2 separate regions of the Homo sapiens genome follow, and region 2 is linked to region 1. The links come from fine-mapping of genetic effects on gene expression. A gene starts in region 1. The other region holds a variant in brackets. All regions are shown on one strand. Distances are from middle to middle. Region 1 holds the start of LINC02153 (long intergenic non-protein coding RNA 2153). Region 2 has its middle 45 kb from the start of SNORD3F.

The links. PIP is the estimated chance that this variant, and not a neighbour inherited with it, causes the effect.
Region 2: its variant is fine-mapped to the expression of LINC02153 in liver (GTEx, PIP above 0.99).

The regions. Positions count from the first base shown.
Region 1 is chr8:20,968,588-20,977,396 of GRCh38, forward strand. LINC02153 (long intergenic non-protein coding RNA 2153) reads left to right here and starts at 5,399. Exons shown (of 5, transcript NR_033894.1): 1 at 5,399-6,066. It overlaps LOC105379316 (a long non-coding RNA gene), which reads right to left. Exons shown (of 4, transcript XR_007060845.1): 2 at 5,146-5,334. It overlaps LINC03023 (long intergenic non-protein coding RNA 3023), which reads left to right. Exons shown (of 5, transcript NR_130774.1): 5 at 200-351.
Region 2 is chr8:20,565,817-20,574,625 of GRCh38, forward strand. No RefSeq gene overlaps it. Among named protein-coding and RNA genes, the nearest start is that of SNORD3F, 45 kb to the right of the region's middle. The variant C/T (reference allele first, on the strand shown) is at 4,966.

The DNA.
Region 1 (8,809 bases):
CCTACTGCTACCTGCTTCTGAAGGATACTAAGCCCCACCGTTTTCATGAATCTTACACTATATTTAATACTAGAGAGGCTCTGTCTCCTCTCTTTCTTTGAATATAATATGTCATTTGCACTGATCGATGTAAAATGTGAGTACTTATTTCTTCATGTAATTTAATATTGTCCACCTCCCCCCTCCGATCCCCTGCTAGATTTCAAGCTCCCTGAAGATGAAGGCTGAATCCTACACCTCGCTTGTATCCTCCATGGCTCATTGAACAAGTGCTAGCTAGCTACATGGAGACTGCTCAATAAATATTGAATAACTCACGAGGGACTCAATAAATAACGATTGCTTAATTGATTAGCTCCGTCAATAAATCTTGCTTTGAACAGAGGTACAGCCATTGAAGATACTCAAAAGGCAATCTCGGTCACTGTGCCTCTGGATAGGGGAAAGCTCCATGAATGTAAGATCTGGTGGGAGAAGGCAAGTTATTTAACCTCTCTAAGCCCCGGGAGCTTCATCTGTAAAATGGGAAAATACTGTAGTGCTTCCGTGTCATTGTCACTGTGACAATGTAATGAGGATGATGCACAGAAGGCATTTATCACACTGCCTAGTCCATTATAAATTCTTAATAAACATTAATTGATATTAGCTACTCATAGATCTTAAGAACTGGATTGAAAGAAACACCATGAGAAAACTTTCAATCTGTAGCAATATTACCCAATAGCTTCATGTTGTAGAGACACTGTACCACTTTACTCCCCTAATATTCTTTTGAGGTCACCAAGAGCGTAAGTAATCTACAAGTGAGTGGGTTGTAGGTTCATTTTGGAGACGACTGTCATTAACTCCTGATACATGGTCCCTTCTGTGATCCTGACTGTGTGATGGGAAGGAGTGGTAGATGCATTTACAGACCTCGTTGCTCCACAAGCATGCTCTAAGAACTTACTAGGTACCAGGCACTGTGCTGGACACCAGGATTTCAGCTGTAAATTAGGCAGACAAGTTTCTTGCTTAAAAGTGCAGTCAAAGTGTCCTTACAAACCATGGAAAGGGGCCATCAGCAGCTATGGATGCTCGTGACCAGAGCCCCTTAGTCTGTTGGAGGAGGGGCTGTCAGGAAAGACTTCCAAGAGGAAGTGACACTTGGGATGAGACCAAATAGATGAGATGGGAGTGGCGTGGTACCCCCCTCCCCACAGCAGCTGCCATATGGGTGGAAGATGGAGAAGACAGTGTGTCCATGGCTACTTCAGACCCAGCCCGATGGGGACCAAGCTACAGTCATGGACGTTCTGGCTGTGCCTCCTGTGCAATGGAATCAGGAGGTCAGTAGCTCAAAGAAATGCCTCCACTCAGGATCTCTGCATCCCCTCTCTCCTTCCTGTGCCACAGCTACCTCCTGGGAGAGAGAACACAGAAACCTGATTTCTCCCCACTTGATGCTTGAAAGGGGAGGGAAGAAGAGAAGGTGACTGCCTGGATCTCTTACTTGGGATGGAGTGTTGTCATGTAAACAACTTTTCACCCTAGGATTTTTTGGGGCTGTCAAGAAGTGACAGCCAGAGCTGGGGACACTGGCTGGAGAGGCCATTAAAGGCCATGAGAGGTGATTTCCCACCTGGCTTCTTCCTCCAGAACTTAGCACTTGCAGCAGTCTCTTCCACCCTACCCCCAACCCACATACATCCTCTCCCCACATAAACATCTCCTTCAGTGGTACCTACCGACTTTTAGCTTTCTAAACCAGACTGAAAGAAAAACATTGATGAGTTGCCAATCTACAGCATTTCACCCACATTTATCTCATTTAATACTCTTAACCTTGAAATTCATTCATTCATTCCTGTAACAAATATGTGTCAAGAACCAACTCTATACCAGCTGTAATCTTTTTTATGCTATTGTCATCTTATCAATGAGGGTGTGGAGCCTCACAAAGGTTAAGTGACCTACCTTGACTCACACATTGAGTAAATAATAAAGTCAGTGAACAAATTGTAGAGATCAAGTCAGCTGAGCTGACTTCAAATACTTTTTCCACTACAGTGGAAAACACTTCTCTAATTGATTGGTCTCTGGATTATTCCATATGGAGTTTTAAGGAAAAAAAAAGATTAAATTCTGGGCATGCCAAGCAAACAGTGGCTAAGTGCTTTCATCAAAGAGTTCATTGGCAAATTACATTCACTGCCTATCTACCCTACTGGGAACCAAACAAAACAAAAATGTGAAGTCAAGTCCTTTGTCTTTCCTCAATGCCTACTCCTGTCACTGTTTCCAAGAAAGGCTCTGATACTTACACAGAGGTATAAGCAACAAAAATACCTTGATGAAGACCAGCCTGGCCAACATGGTGAAACTCCATCTTTACTAAAAATGCAAAAATTAGCTGGGTATGCTGGCAGGTGCCTGTAATCCCAGCTACTCAGGAGGCTGAGGCAGGAGAATCTCTTGAGCCTGAAAGGTGGGAGTGCAGTGAGCCAAGATCACACCACTGCATTCCAGCCTGGGCGAGAGAGTGAGGCTCCATCTCAAAAAAGAAAAAATGCTTGAAATGCTCCTCCATCGTGGATGAGAATTGTGAGTATCATGTCCTGCAGGGGTGGGGCTGGAACACTTGCTGCCAGTCCCACAGGGGAGGTCTGCTTTTGCAAACTCAGCAATAATGGAAAGCACCTGTTCAGTCTTAGGCATGGTAGAAATTTGTGGGGGAGGGAGAAATGCAGAACCCACAAGCCATGTTGTGTTGGAAGAGAGAGAAAGTAAAAGTTTGAAACACCGTGGCGTCATAAAGCCAGCCGGAAGAACCGATTTTGGGGATTAAGAGTGACTACATTGTTGGCCGGACGCGGTGGCTCATACCTGTAATCCCAGCACTTTGGGAGGCTGAGGCAGGCAGATCACGAGGTCAGGAGTTCAAGACCAGCCTGACCACCATGGTGAAACCTCATCTCTACTAAAAATACAAAAATTAGCCAAGTGTGGTGGCACACGCCTGTAGTCTCAGCTACTCAGGAGACTGAGGCAGGATAATTCCTTGAACCTGGGAGGCAGGGGCTGCAGTGAGCTGAGATCACACCACCGCACTCCACCCTGGGCAACAGAGCGAGACTTCTTCGTCTCCAAAAAAGAGTGACTACATTGTCACATTCACTTTTTCCTTTTCCAACCCCCTCCGTGCATGTGCAAAACCATTAGAAAAGCAACAAGCAGGGCTGGTGAAGGAATCAGGGGAAGGCTTCTCTCATACTCTCTCTCCCACATAGGAGCATAGTCCCCGAGTTTTAAGTCTTACTGCTGCCACTTTCTGATCGAGTGTCTTTTAGCAATTTATACTCTGAGTCACAATTTTCTCATCTGCAGAATGAGTGTAATAATAGCAGCCTTGCAGAGTCATCGTGAGGACCCAGTGTAACCATCTGCATATGAGATGGGAGCAGCCAGCACCGTGGAATGAGGCAAGGTTTGGAGGGGAAGAGCTCACGACATGCTTCTAAACACTTAGCTATGTGACCATGAGGAACTCACCACCCCTCCAGCTTCATCCACCTCACTTTTCACATGAGAAAAGTAACAAACTTGTGCTTTGTTGGAATCAAAGGCGGTAGCAAGTAAATGTAATAATGCTTTTAAACTGTCAAGTCCTATTCAGATGAAAAGATACACCATTGCCTTTCTCCTAAGCAGGGCATTGTGCCTCCATGAATACCTACAATCAAGGTGTTCCCAGGCCCCATGTATACACTGCCAGTGCCAGTGCTGGGGGATTCCAAAGGAGCAGAAGTTGTGGGCCCCTCCCAGCTGGAGAATAACATCAAGGTAACCCGAAGCAGGATGTAAGCACAGTTTAGACTGCGCTGTCTCAGTGACATGCTGGTGTAAGGAGGAGGCACAGGATGTGGGAAAGGCCCGTAGATGAGGCCATGGAGGAGCTGAGGCTGCGATGGGTCCAGGAGGATGAGCATCCTGGGTGTTCCAGCCTCAATGCCTCCAGAGGCAGACAAAGGCTGGGCAAAAGGAGTTTGCCTGAGAGATGCGCAGATGTTCTCATCAAGCACAAGGGAGAGAGTGAGAATATGAGTCAGGACAGGCAGCAAGGCCCAGAAAGGGTCCATTGTTGTGCAAGCCACCCCTGTTTGTTTGCAGCTGGGCTCAACCCTGCTGAGGGGCCAGGAAGCTGCGGTGTATATCTGCTCATTCCAGTGCCACATAGAATTGACAGTGCTTCCTGTCAGGAACTTTCTGACATTCCCTTGGCCAGAGAATGTTCTCAGGCCAAGAGACACAGAGAGCTGAGGACTGCGGGCAGGTAGCCCGAGGGGATGTGAATGGGACACCGACAGCATCTGCTAGCTTTGGCAGATGGGAGCTAGGGCCACTCCATGCTAAGGGACAGCATGAACAAAATGAAGGAGAAGATGGGTTGAGTGAGGAGCTCGCCAAGCTTTGCTCCAGAGGGAGAGAGTATTTGAAATTGGGACTATCTGCAAAAATCACCAAATATATGAAGGGCAGCAAGGAAACTCTAAGAGGGGAAAATGGGCAGCAGTGTGGAGCTGCTGCACACCACTGATGATGGGAGGTGTTAGAGAGGGAAATGCCTCTTGTTCTGGGGTGATGATGATCTTGCAGCACCGGCCTGGGCCGGCAGTTGGACAATGGTGACCGGATGAGTGGCCAGTCATGGTTCCACTCAATGCTGGTGAATGAACTATCCCCTGGCAGTTTGCAAAGCTCAGGTCCACAGCTGACTGTGGAACTGGAAGTGCCACAGCACCCACCCCTGCCGCCAAGCCGTGCCCCACTTCTGCTGCTAAATGGAGAAAGGATGGAGCCTACATTAGAAACCAGAGACCTGGCAAAGTGGGTGGGACAGGAGGTTCCTGGCAAGCGACAGACAGAACTACAGAATGCCGTAAGAGAAAGGAAGGTGGTTGGTCTTTCAGTCAGAAGTGCTGGCTGGACATGGAGCACTGCTACGGTGACCAGCGCAGCCACCACTAGGAACAGCGACTCTCCCAGACCCTCCCTCACCTGCCACCCATCGTAGTGGCTGCTCCTCTTGAACGGCTGGGGCGAGAGGGATACTGCATGCGATGGAACTGATAAACCAGTTCAAATAGCATTAGACTCACTCACCGATACTGTCTCATTGAAACACATTGCTCATTTATTCCTCTTCGTCATCCTTTGAGACACAGTCATTATTTTCCAGATGAGGCCTGCTCAAGAGCATTTGGCTGATGGGGGCTGAAACCTCTCACTGCAACCAGGTTCATTTGGCTCCAAGTCCTGTGTGCTCTTTATGAAGTCATAGCAAGGCCTGGACTAGGGTGAGAAAGGACAGGTGCCTGTGAGGCAGGACTTAAAGGAGGCGCTGGCCCTCAGGGGCATGCGAGGGCAGGGTGAGCACCTGAGAGTGAGGGCCTCCTTAAAGTCTGTGGTCCAGGGTCCTTTGGTCCCCTAATCCCAGAGCAGAAAAGAAAGCCTTCAAATCCAGCTGCTGCCTGAAGAGCCTCAGACTCACTCCCCTGGGGCAGCAAAGTGCATTTCTTTACCCACAAGGCCCTGTAGTGCTGACTGGAAGATGGGGCTGTCAGGGACTCATGGGAAAGAATGGCACATTGGATACAAACTCATTCGGCTTAGTTTTACCCTGTGGCTGCCCCTGTAGTGTCATTTGTGACACCAGGAATATGTTCCATACCAACCGAATAGCTTCTCTTCCTATTCGTGCCAGTGCATGGAACTATATAATCATTCATCTATTCATTAATTCATTTATTTGTAGCCTTCCTCTTTATATAGGCTTAGAGAGCCACTACTCGAAGCCAAGCCTTACGTCAGGCAGCAGAGATACCAAGATGAGGTTGAAGAAAACACACGGCTTTCTCCACTCATGGACTCCAATGAGGATGGCAACAACATGGTAATTAGAAGTCATTAGCAGATTGCTCTCAGCAAGTGGAAAGCAGTGAGAATTCTGAAGCAAGACTTCTCTGGACTTCAGGGAAGTCCCTCTAAGGAAGTGACATCTAAACTGGAACTCCACTGCCTCTAGTATGTCTACTCTGGAGTTCCCACCTTTAAGGGTTTCTGGGAACATTAATATATATAGTGTGAGTGGATTTGGCCCTCTCTGAGTCTGAGAGAGTAGGTGTGCAATAAGAGTTAACATTTGCTAACTTGCAGTCTTATGGCTCCTTACAGGGCTGAGACTTGACCTTGTGACTCCAGCCTAGGATTATATAAGGATGTGACTGACCTTAGAGGATTTCACGGGAACTTAGCTGTACACGTGGAACCCATTTATTTGCTGACACTTCTCATTTCCTTTCAGAACAAACCTACATTCCCAGACCTATAATTTTCTTGAGAAAATGGGTTTATTATAAGTCACTCAATAAAACACCCTACCATGGCTTCCCAGTACAAACCCTAGTTTCAATTAGTCTTATTTTCTTCCTGAACTGATGATTCCCAAATCTATCTATCTGTTCATTAGGATCACTGGAGAACTATTAAAATGTCCAAAGTCCAGTCCACACCCCAGACCAATTAAATCAGTCACTGAGGCTAAGATCAATATTTTTTTAAGCTCCCCAGTCAGAATTGGAATTTCAACTGCTGGTCAGTTTCTCCTATGAACATGGGTTGATATGGGCACGATTGTGGGGCTAGCGTTGCCATCTCTCCCTATTAAACTTCTCCTACTAGAGCTACAATACTTTTCGGCCCTTGGATGGCTGTGCTTTTCGAATTCTTGTACTTCCACTGTTCTACCTCTTTTATTCAAGGCAGCCTTTCCTGCATGCATTTATTCTTTCATTCACTTACAAGAATATACTGAATATGGATTCTAGGAACTAGGAAATGAGTTGTTGACCTTGGGCTAGGGTGAGAACATTTGAGTGGTTCTTCGTGGTGACCTGCCTCCCCTGCCCCCATAAAAGCCTCTCTCCTTCCTGCCTTCCAGTCCACTGATGCATGGGCCCAGGCAGCACCAACCATTTCCTTGCTTGTAGTCAGTTCCCCATCTACCAAGTAATGCCTGCCTTCCCCTCCTGTTGGAGGGTGTATTAGTCTGTTTTCATGCTGCTGATGAAGACATACCCCAGACTGGGTAATTTATAAGAAAAAGAGGTTTAATGAACTCACAGTTCCACATGACTAGGGAGGCCTCACAATCATGGCAGAAGGTGAGGAGGAGCAAAGTCATGCCTTACATGGTGGCAGGCAAGAGAGAAAGACAAGCGAAAGGGGAAATCCCTTATAAAACCATCAGATCTTGTCAGACTTATTCACTACTATGAGAGCAGTATGGGGGAAACTGCCCTCATGATTCAATTATCTCCCACAAGGTCCCTCCCACAGCATATGGGAATTATGGGAGCTACAATTCAAGATGAGATTTGGGTGGGACACAGCCAAACCATATCAGAGGGTCCAAATTCAACTCTTCTAGAGTTAACTACCCAAATTCCCAAAACCTCTTGACTGTTTGTTTCACAGAGGTTTTTTTTTTTTTGAGGTCATAGTAAAAAATAATTTTAGAAACATGCCCTGACAAATGTGGGTTCCTGAAATTGAGGCGGTGAATCCTTCACCCCTCCCTAGTAGCCCTGAATGAGTCCTCTCTTCTGAACTAGACTCCAAGCCTCCCTAACGGCAGCAGTGATTTCCAGTCCTCAAATGACACAGTCAAAACTCTCACTAGAATGCTTGTTGAGTGACACTTAGCAGATCATGTGTTGACTGGAGAAAAGGAGGGAGGAAGAAAGGAGAAGAGAACAGGAGGGAGAGGAAAAGGGAGGAGATACAGAGTAAGCCAGAGAGGAGAGAGACAGAGACACAGAATGGAACCGATTTTGAGATCCTACCTGTCCTGCCCATCGCCTTGTGGAGGACAGAGGAATGGGGCATCTAAGCTCACTCACACTGCCAATTTGAACTGTTCTGCCCTAGCCTCCCTCCCTACCCACTTGAGAGCATTGGAAAGCTGCCCCATGAAGGCTTTACAAAGCATCACCATAGTAACTGTTTTCTCCACTAAAAGACGCCTATGCAATGAAGCTCTGCACTCTTGTCTGCCCCTCTCAGTAACTGGGAGAGGCTTCCACTCTCTCCAGCAAAGGCCTTACCGGCCACTGAGTGACTCTATCTCATATTCTCATGACTGTCATTACCAGCGTTAGTATTTTCTTTATTCTTTTGCACTTCCCTGGCTCTGCTGGTCTAAAATGGGCTTTCCATGACTTTAATTGGCTCTCATCAGCACTGAGGTCAGTGAGGCAGCCACAGAGTTCATTTGACTAAGGCACAAGCAGAGGCGGAAGTCTGAACAACTTGCTCAAGGTCTCCAGCTCCAGAGTCCTGCAGATGAGGGCTCACAATCCCTAAGTTTACTATCCTTTCCTCAGCCCCAGTTTGTCCTTCCGCAAGGGGGAAATCGCCTCTACAGTTATCACACTAGGAGAAATTATACTTCCCTGAATTGTAAGCTTGGGCATCTGTGTGTCAAAGCAGAGAAGAAGTCAGGGAGGTAGCTTGTGTCTTTGAGGGGTGTGAGGGGCTGGGCTTGGTGAGCAGATGGACAGAGCTGAGCTGCCGGGTTCCACGTCAACAATGGCAAGTCCATGGGGAATTTCTGTAGAATTAGATATATTGCTGGACGCGAATAATTAAGGATTCTGATGTGGTCAGGTAGATTAATGTCCCTCTGAAAGCTCTGGATCAATGTTGGAAGGGAAAAAAATAAAAGACATGCATAATTTAAAAAAACCATCAGAAACTTTGCTTGACA
Region 2 (8,809 bases), 400 kb before region 1:
GGCCTGGCAGGAGGTGATTCGATCATGGGGGCACATTTCTCCCTTGGTGCTATTCTTGTGACAGTGAATGAGTTATATAAAAGTGTATGGGACCTCCCTTCTCCTTCCCACCCTGTTGCTCCTGCTCTGGCCTTGTAAGACATGCCTGCTCCCCTTTTGCCTTCCACTATGATTGGAAGTTTGCTGAGGCCTCCCCAGAAACAAGCTGCTATGCTTCCTGTACAGCCTGCAGAACTGTGAGCCAATTTTACCTCTTTTCTTTATAAATTGTCCAGTCTCAGCTATTTCTTTATAGCAATGTGAGAATGGACTAATACAGCAATCTAGAAGCCAGTGTTGAATAAGCACTTCAAGATTATCTTGTCTGAGAGGTAAGAGAGGATGGATATTTGTTTATCAACTCCTCTCAGTCATTGTTTGAGGGCGCCAATGGCTAGAGTGTGACCCAGTGCATATGGGAAGTGGCTGGGTACCCGCAGGACTTGCTTCACTTCTGCTCAGCTATCTCTGTGCAGGACCAGGCCAATGGAGGCAGCGGTGTAAGGTATAGGGTGTGGGGCTATGTCACTGTGTGCCTCTGTGCTGTGCCTAACTTTGAGGGGAAATATACCAAAACAAGCTCTCAGGACAGACTGGCATATAGTAGATGTTCAGTAAATTAATCCTGAGTATTAGAGATCCGAGGGATTTAGGGAAGAAGGGGGCTATCAGAAGTATAGCAGACAAGAAGACTGACATCATTAGAGGGCTGGCCTGTGCTGCCCAAGTGCCAGGGCAAGAGAGTCCATGTGCCCTAGATCTGGGGAGATGTCTTTGTACCAGTCCATGATGCCCAGAGAATCTTTCAGAAAGGAATGAGTCCATTCTCCCTTTTCTATCCCGTTGCTTAGGGCAGGTAGACGGTGCAGGGTGGCTCCCTGGGCAGCAAAGTCTGGTTGAATCGTGAGGCTCAGAGGGCCTCGTTATCTCCTCCAGCCACTTGCCTGGAAGGCTCCTATCCTGGGAAACAAACCTGGGAAGTAGGAAGAGAGGAAGTGGCTGGAGAAAGAATGAGCAATTACACATGGCAAGCACCAGCCCCAAACATGCAATTACTTTTCAAACAGGCTATTTACAGCCCGTCAGACAGAGCCTGCAGGGAGTGGGAATTGTGTAGTCTGAGACTGGACAGGGCTCCGAGAGGCAGGGAAGTGAGCATCAGGGCTGGCTCATTGATGTGTGAGGCAGAGAGACAGACCCACAGCAGGGAGCCAGCAATTGGGAGAGGATGGAAAGGGCAGTCAAGATCCCCTCTCTGATCTGCCGCCTCACCACTGACACTTCTGCAGGAGCCCAGCTCCTCACTGTCCTGGTCAAGTCCACCAGGGCCACCCCCTCTCCAAGACTCCACCTTCACTGTCTTCCCCACCCACTGCCCCTCCTTGTCTTTCTCCTGGTCCTCAGCCTGGTTTCTACCGCCCTGGGCAAAACTCCCCTGAGTGCCCCCACCCACCCCAATAACTTACTTTCTGAACCATTGGAACCTTAATTCTTATTGCCATTCACTTCCCACAGATTGTTTTGTCAGTGTCATCTGTTCCCAGCTAAAATTCATTGTCTTATTTTTCATTTGTGTACTCCTGTGATCTTAGTCTAGTGAACAAGATCACTGAATCACTTCTGACTTGATCACCACATGCCTCCGTTTCCTTGTTCATGAAATGGGATTCAAAATAGTACTTTATTCTTAGGGTTGCTGTGAGGGCTATAGCAGTGACTGCTAGTTACGTGCTTAGCACAGTGCCTGGTTTAGAGTGCAAACTCAGTCAACATGGAACGGACACATGTGAGGCCTTGGCTTGCTAGGGACCTGTTCGGTGTTTCTGGGGCTCAGATAAAACCACGATGGTCAGGTCACTCTTTCACTTCTTCCACATTTTGACTCATTTAAGTTAGAATAGGAAAAATGTATATAATTATAGGATGTATTTTAGAAGAGTTTCTTGCAAGTCTTTTTGGTTTGGAACCATTTAAATTAGTTCTGCATAGTCAAGACCTAAAGACCTGTATTCCAATACCTTTATTGGAACTGCTTATATTAGTATGTATAGACAAGATCTGAAAGTCCTCTTTTGTGCTTACTAGAGAGGAATTTCAGAACTGTTATATATACCCAATACAGGTTTTGGTCAGCCTCATTTTCAAAAGGGATTGTTCCCCAGGGTCATTTACGATTATTAGAGTGAGGCAGATCTTCAAAGGCATGTCTGTGTTAGGGGAAGCAACTGGGACCTTATTGCCATGCTGGGTTGATTGTGCTGAAGATGAGAACATTCGATGATGTCATTTAGGGATGGCCTTGGCAGATACTGCACCTGCTCCTCTTTTAGGTATGGCTCCTCTTAGTTAGATACCGGATTGGGACAGCTGTCCCCTTTGCCTAAGTATAAAGCAACTCTGAGCCCCTCGAGGAAAAACACTGGAGAGCTAAAATCAGAGCAGTGCTTAGATCTTAGCTCAGACTTCATGCTGCATCTCCTCTGTTTGTCTTCCACATCCTTCTCTACCCCAATCTTTGCTCTCAGTCCAGGGACATTGACCTCTGGGGACTGTCTCAATTTGCCCTTTTGCCCTCTGGTTTCTACCTGGGTTTAGCCGATGGGAGGCACCAACAGGAAATCAGAGAGAGAGGTTGGAATAATTATTCCTTTGGTTCTTTCCTTCTGTCCTGCAGATTGGCAGAGGTTGATCTCTCTGTGTAAGGCCACAGCTTCACCAGGGCTGCGGTCACCTATAACTTTCTAGTGTCTTTCTGGCGGCTATTCCCTCCTTTGCCTTGAGAGCCAAGGGATGGGAACAGCCCTTGTTGTCCTGACATATTTCACTACTTCTCTTAATGCTTCTCCTAACTTTGTAAAACAGCCTCTGCATTAAACTTTGCTCAAACATTCAGTTGTTCTCCCCCTGACATCTATGAGGCAGCTTGGTACAAGTGGAAAAGAGTGTAGGTTCTGCAGTGAGATTTTCTGGGTTCATACACCACTTAACATTTTAAGTTTCTCTTTAAAAATTAATTTTAAATCTGTAATTGATATATAATAAGCATGCATATTTATGGGGTACAGTGTGATGTTTCAATACATGTATACATTGTATAATGATCAAATCAGGGTAATTAGCAGATCCATCACTTTAAACATTTATCATTTCTTTGCAGTGACAACATTCAAACTCTTCTAGTTTTCCCAAAATATACACTACATTGTTATTTGCTATAATCACCCTACTGTGCAATAGAACACAAGAACATATTCTTTCAGTCTAACTGTAACTTTGTAACTATCGACCAACCTCTTGCATTACTCTCCTCTCTGCCTCCCAGCCTCTGGTAATCACTATTTACTCTCTAATTCTATGAAATCAACGTTTTAAGATTCCACATATGAGCTAGACATACAGTGTTGGTCTTTCTGTGCCTGGCATATTTCACTTAACATAATGTCCTCCAGGTTCATTCACCCTGTCGCAAATGACAGGATTTCATTCTGTTTTATGGCTGAATAGTGTTCTATTGTGTGTGTGTGTGTGTGTGTGTGTGTGTGTATATATATATATATATAAAATTTTCTGTATTCATTCTTCTGTAGATGGGCATTTAGGTTGATTTCATATCTTGGCTATTGTAAATAGCACTGCAGTAAACACAGGAGTGCACATATCTCTTCAATATACTGATTTCATTTCTTTTGGATATACACCTAGCAATGAAATTGCTGAATCATTTAATAGTTTACATTTTAATTTTTTGAGGTACTTCCATACTATACTATAAAGGCTATAGTTTTTTTACATTCCTACCAATAGTACCTAATAGTTCCCATTTCTCCACATCCTCACCAGCTCTTGTCACATTTTGTTTTTTCGATGATAGCCATCCTAACTGGGGCAGAGTGATATCTCATTGTGGTTTTGAATTGCATTTCCCTGATAATTAATGATGTTGAGGACTTTTTCATGTATCTGTTGGCAATTTGTATGTCTTTTTTTGAGAAATGTCTATTCAGGCTTTTCCCCCTTTTTAAATCTGATGATTATTGTTGTTTGCTATTGAGTTGTTTGAGTTCCTTATATAGTCTGGATATTAACTACTTGTTAGATACACAGTTTTTCTCTCATCCCGTAGGTTGTTTCTCCACTCTATTGTTTCTTTTCCAGTACAGAAGCTTTTTAGTTTGATGTAATCCTATTTGCCTATTTTTGCTTTTGTTGCCTGTGGTTTTGAGGTCTTATTGAAAAAATCTGCACTCAGTCCAATTTTATGCAGTGTTTCTCCAATGTTTTCTTGTAGTAGTTTTATAGTTTCAGGTCTTGCATTTAAGTCTTCAATCTATTTAGAGTTGATTTTTGTATATGGTGAGAGATAGGGGTATAGTTTTATTTATTTATTTATTTATTTATGACAGAGTCTTACTCTGTTACCGAGGCTGGAGTGCAGTGGTGTGATCTTGGCTCACCGCAACCTCCGCCCCCAGGGTTCAAGTGATTCTCCTGCCTCAGCCTCCCGAGTAGCTGGGACTGCGGGTGTGCACCACCATGCCAGCCTATTTTTTTTTTTTTTTTTGTATTTTTAGTAGAGACAGAGTTTCACCATGTTGGCCAGACTGGTCTTGAACTCCTGACCTCAAGTGATCCACCCACCTCAAAGTGCTCAAAGTCTCTCAAAGTGCTGGGATTACAGGTGTGAGCCACTGCACCCAGCCAGGGGTCTAGTTTTAATCTTCTGCAGGTGTATATCCACTTGTCCCATCGCCATTTATTGATGGGATGTCCTTTCTCCAATGTGTGGAAGACATGTGTGGAGTTGAGCGAAGATATTGAACTGTGTAATGGTTAATACTGAGTGTCAACTTGATTGGATTGAAGGATACAAAGTATTGATCCTTTGTGTGTCTGTGAGGGTGTTGCCAAAAGAGATTAATATTTAAG[C/T]CGGTAGGCTGCGGAGGGCAGATTCACCCTTAATCTAGTGGACACAATCTCATCAGCTGCCAGCGAATATAAAGCAGGCAGAAAAAACGTGAAAAGGAGAGACTGGCCTAGCCTCCCAGCCTACATCTTTCTCCTATGCTGGGTGCTTCCTGCCCTCGAACACTAGACTCCAAGTTTTCCAGTTTTGGGACTCAGACTGGCTCTTCTTACTCCTCAGCTTGTAGACAGCCAATTGTGGGACCTTGTGATCATGTAAGTTAATACTTAATAAACTATTCTTTAAATATATATATAATATGTGTGTGTGTGTGTGTGTGTGTGTGTGTGTGTGTGTGTGTGTATCCTATTAATTTTGTCCCTCTAGAGAACCTGACTAATACAAACTGGTATTGAGCTGACCGATCTAAAGAAAAATTTCCAGGGAATAAGATTGGGCAGATAATAGCTAAGAATACTGGAGGATGCTGGGGAGTAGGAGGGGTATAGAAGTATTCTTTTTTTTTTTTTTTTTTTTTTTTTGAGACAAGGTCTCACTCTGTCACCCAGGCTGAAGTGCAGTGGCATGATCATGACTCACTGCAGCCTCAACCTCCTGGGTTCAGGTGATCCTCCCAGCTAAGCCTCCTGAGTAGCTGGAACTAAAGGTGTGCACCACCATGCCCGGCTCATTTTTTTTTCTTGTATGTTTTGTAGAGACAGAGTTTTGTCATGTTACCCAGGCTGGTTTTGAACTCCTGGACTCAAGCAACCCTCCCACCTCAGCCTCCCAAAGTGTTGGGATTACAGGCATGAGACACTGCCTGGCCAGAAGTATTATTTTTGAGTGTGGTTATTTGAAGAAGTATAGGCAGGACTTTTTGGCCAATGTAATATTCCTCCAAAGTGCTGGAAGGCTAGAATTCCATTCAGCTCTCCAATCTTCCAGGCATAGGTGAACTCTATTCTAGACTGGAGTTTCTCGTCCCACATTGCCAATTCAATTTTTCCTCAGTTTGATTCTTCTTAGAGTGGTTGATGAGCTTCTGTTTCTCTTATAATATGTGGGACATCTTGGACCCTCCATCTTACACCTTCCCGACTTACTTACCTGTGACTTTGGCAATTACTGCAACAGCAGGTTGCATGCACAGGTAGTCTGATCAGAGTGGCTAGAGCCTTGTGACTTTTCTCTTACTTTCTGCTCTTGAGCTTCTCTGTGTCTACCTTGGAGGATGCTGTGGGATATTGCTCAGTTGTGCTGGTTCAAATACCCATGTGGAAGAGCTAGGGAGTTAAACAATGTCTGGGCAAATTCTTTACCGGTGGATAAGGAGCCAATGCATGAATATTTCCCTCTCCTTATTGTGGACAATTCTGAAGCAGGGTACACAACTCTTCAAGGGCCTGGTGGGATTGAGTCTCAGTTATTTGCGACTACTGAATCAACTCAGTCATACACACTGGGATTGACTTTTTCTCCTTTCCCTTTTTACTCTTCCCATTCCCTCCAACCCATTCCATAGGATTGCCATCCCAAATAAACTACATACTGGCAAGCCCTTGTCACAAGTTCTGTGTTGTTTTATGCATGATGAATATATTCTAAGCTAAGACATCATTTTATTTGGTATTCAGTTATTATATGCATTTTATGGTTGCATTTTATGCTACTTTAATGAACATAGTTTATACTCTCTTAATAATCCACAAATAGCTGGAAGTGAGCCCTTCATAAATAAGACCACGATTTCAACAATGAGTCTTAATGGCCATCTTCTTCAGTGAGTTACAAATTCCAGCAAGCTTGGCATCTGTTGAAGCAGGATGGTCCAGTGGAAAGAACGATAAAGCGGGAGTCAGGAGCATCAGCTCTTTGATCCAGCCCTATCATTCTCTAATTATATGATTAAAAATACTTGTTTTAACAGCTGTATTGAGATATAACTTATATACCACAATAATCACCCAATTAAGGTGTATAATTCAATGGTTTTGAGTATTTATAGAGTTATACAAACATCTCCATAATCTAATTTTAAAACATCTTTGTTACCCCCCAAATAAATCTTGTGCCCATTAGCAGTCACTCCTCACTCCCCTAATTGTCCCTTCTCACTCCCCAGCTCTTTCCCCCGCCTTCCAGATTCAGGCAGCAACTGATTTACTTTCTATTTCTATAGATTTGCCAATTCTGGACATTTTGTATAAATTGGATCAGGCAGTTTTGGTCTTTTGTGACTAGATCCTTTCACTGTGCAGAAAGTGTTTGATGTTGATCTATACTGTAGTGTTGGCTGTGTGATTCTGAGTAACCACTAACCTCTGTGTCCTGCTTCCTCCTCTGCTCCCTGGAAGAGGTCTCTGAGGTCCTTTCCAGCCCTAGGAGTCTCAGGCAAGCAATGTTAAGTAGCACAGAAACCTAGAGGAACTATGGGCCCAGTGTTTAATTTTTCAGCTATGAGCTAAAAGAAGAGGAACAATGTTTATTGCTGAGCTCCTATTCGACAGTTGATACCCGTGTGTGCACAGAAACCAATTACCTATGAGGAGTAATTGAAATCATTAATACCCACAAACAAATGTGTCTATTCTGCAAGTAATTTGCAGTAACATTTAGTAATTGATAGTAATTTTTAGTAATTAAACACTAAGTAGTTAATTTGCCAAGCTACACAGCCATTTTAATGGGGTTCCTTGGTGTTCCCACAGCAAATCTTAATTACTTAACCCAAGCACCACGAATATTTCTGTCATTTCTGAAAAAATATACAGCATGTGCTATTCTGGGTAAGCTGCAGTAGAGAGGAAGCCAAGGAGAGGAATTATTTTCCTGGGCAGTAGTAATTAAAAGACTGAAGCTATCGTTTGGGCCAATAAAAGGTCGTGGAGTGAATCCCTGTGTGTGTGTGTGTGCGTGTGTGTGTGTGTGTTTGTGTGTGTGTGTATATATATATTTATCTATCTATCTATCTATCTATCTATCTATCTATCTATCTATCTAATCTATCTGTATTTTGTCTCTGCTTCACAGAAAGTCAAAGTGAAATCTGGGTTATAACAACTTATTTCTCTCTCCTCCTTCTCCTAAATGTTTTGGCCCAGACTTTATGAGGTTTGTTCAGGCTATTACAAACCCACGTCTGAGTTGCTTGTGGCAGGGAGCAATCATAGAAACCCACTTTTTTCTTCAGGATACCATCTGCAGTTCTGATTTTGATATTCCCATTCAATAGGCCATTCGTAGTGATTTATTAGCTGTAGAGGACAGATAGTAGCTTGCTCAGCATCTTGCCCTCCTTCCTTTTTCTTCACAGTACCCCAAATTTATTCCGGAATCCATCCCTTTTCCTTGCAGCCTATGTGATTGGGTGAAGCTCTTGCTGGGGTGGATCTTGATTAGTCTAAGCCAGTCATGGTGATTCCACTACAGGCTCTTGCTGGAGACCGGTTCAGGAAGTCAGGCTGCTATTGGTCCGGGAGTGATCATGTGACTCTAGCTGGCTCAGTGAGAGAGAAGAAAAGGGCGTTTCTTTCGCAGGTAGGAGAGAGACTGTCTTCCCTCTCCCTGCCTTTCTGGGTATGAGGAAGGGAGCACATTGGCTGCAGGGGCTGCAGGCAGCCATCTTGACGCCACGTGGGAAACGAGGTCTCAGAACAAGGTCTACCCAAAGATGGATGGAGTCAAGAGAACTGCAGAGAAACTGAACCTAAGTTCTACTGTGCCTAGAGTTCTATTTTCTCAACTTCTAGTCAAGCGAGATGATACATTTTTCTCAGGTTTTTGTCAAGTTTGAACATGGCTGTCTGCCATTTGCAGCCCCAAGTATCTTGACTCATTTGACACCAGTCTTCATCTTTCACCCTA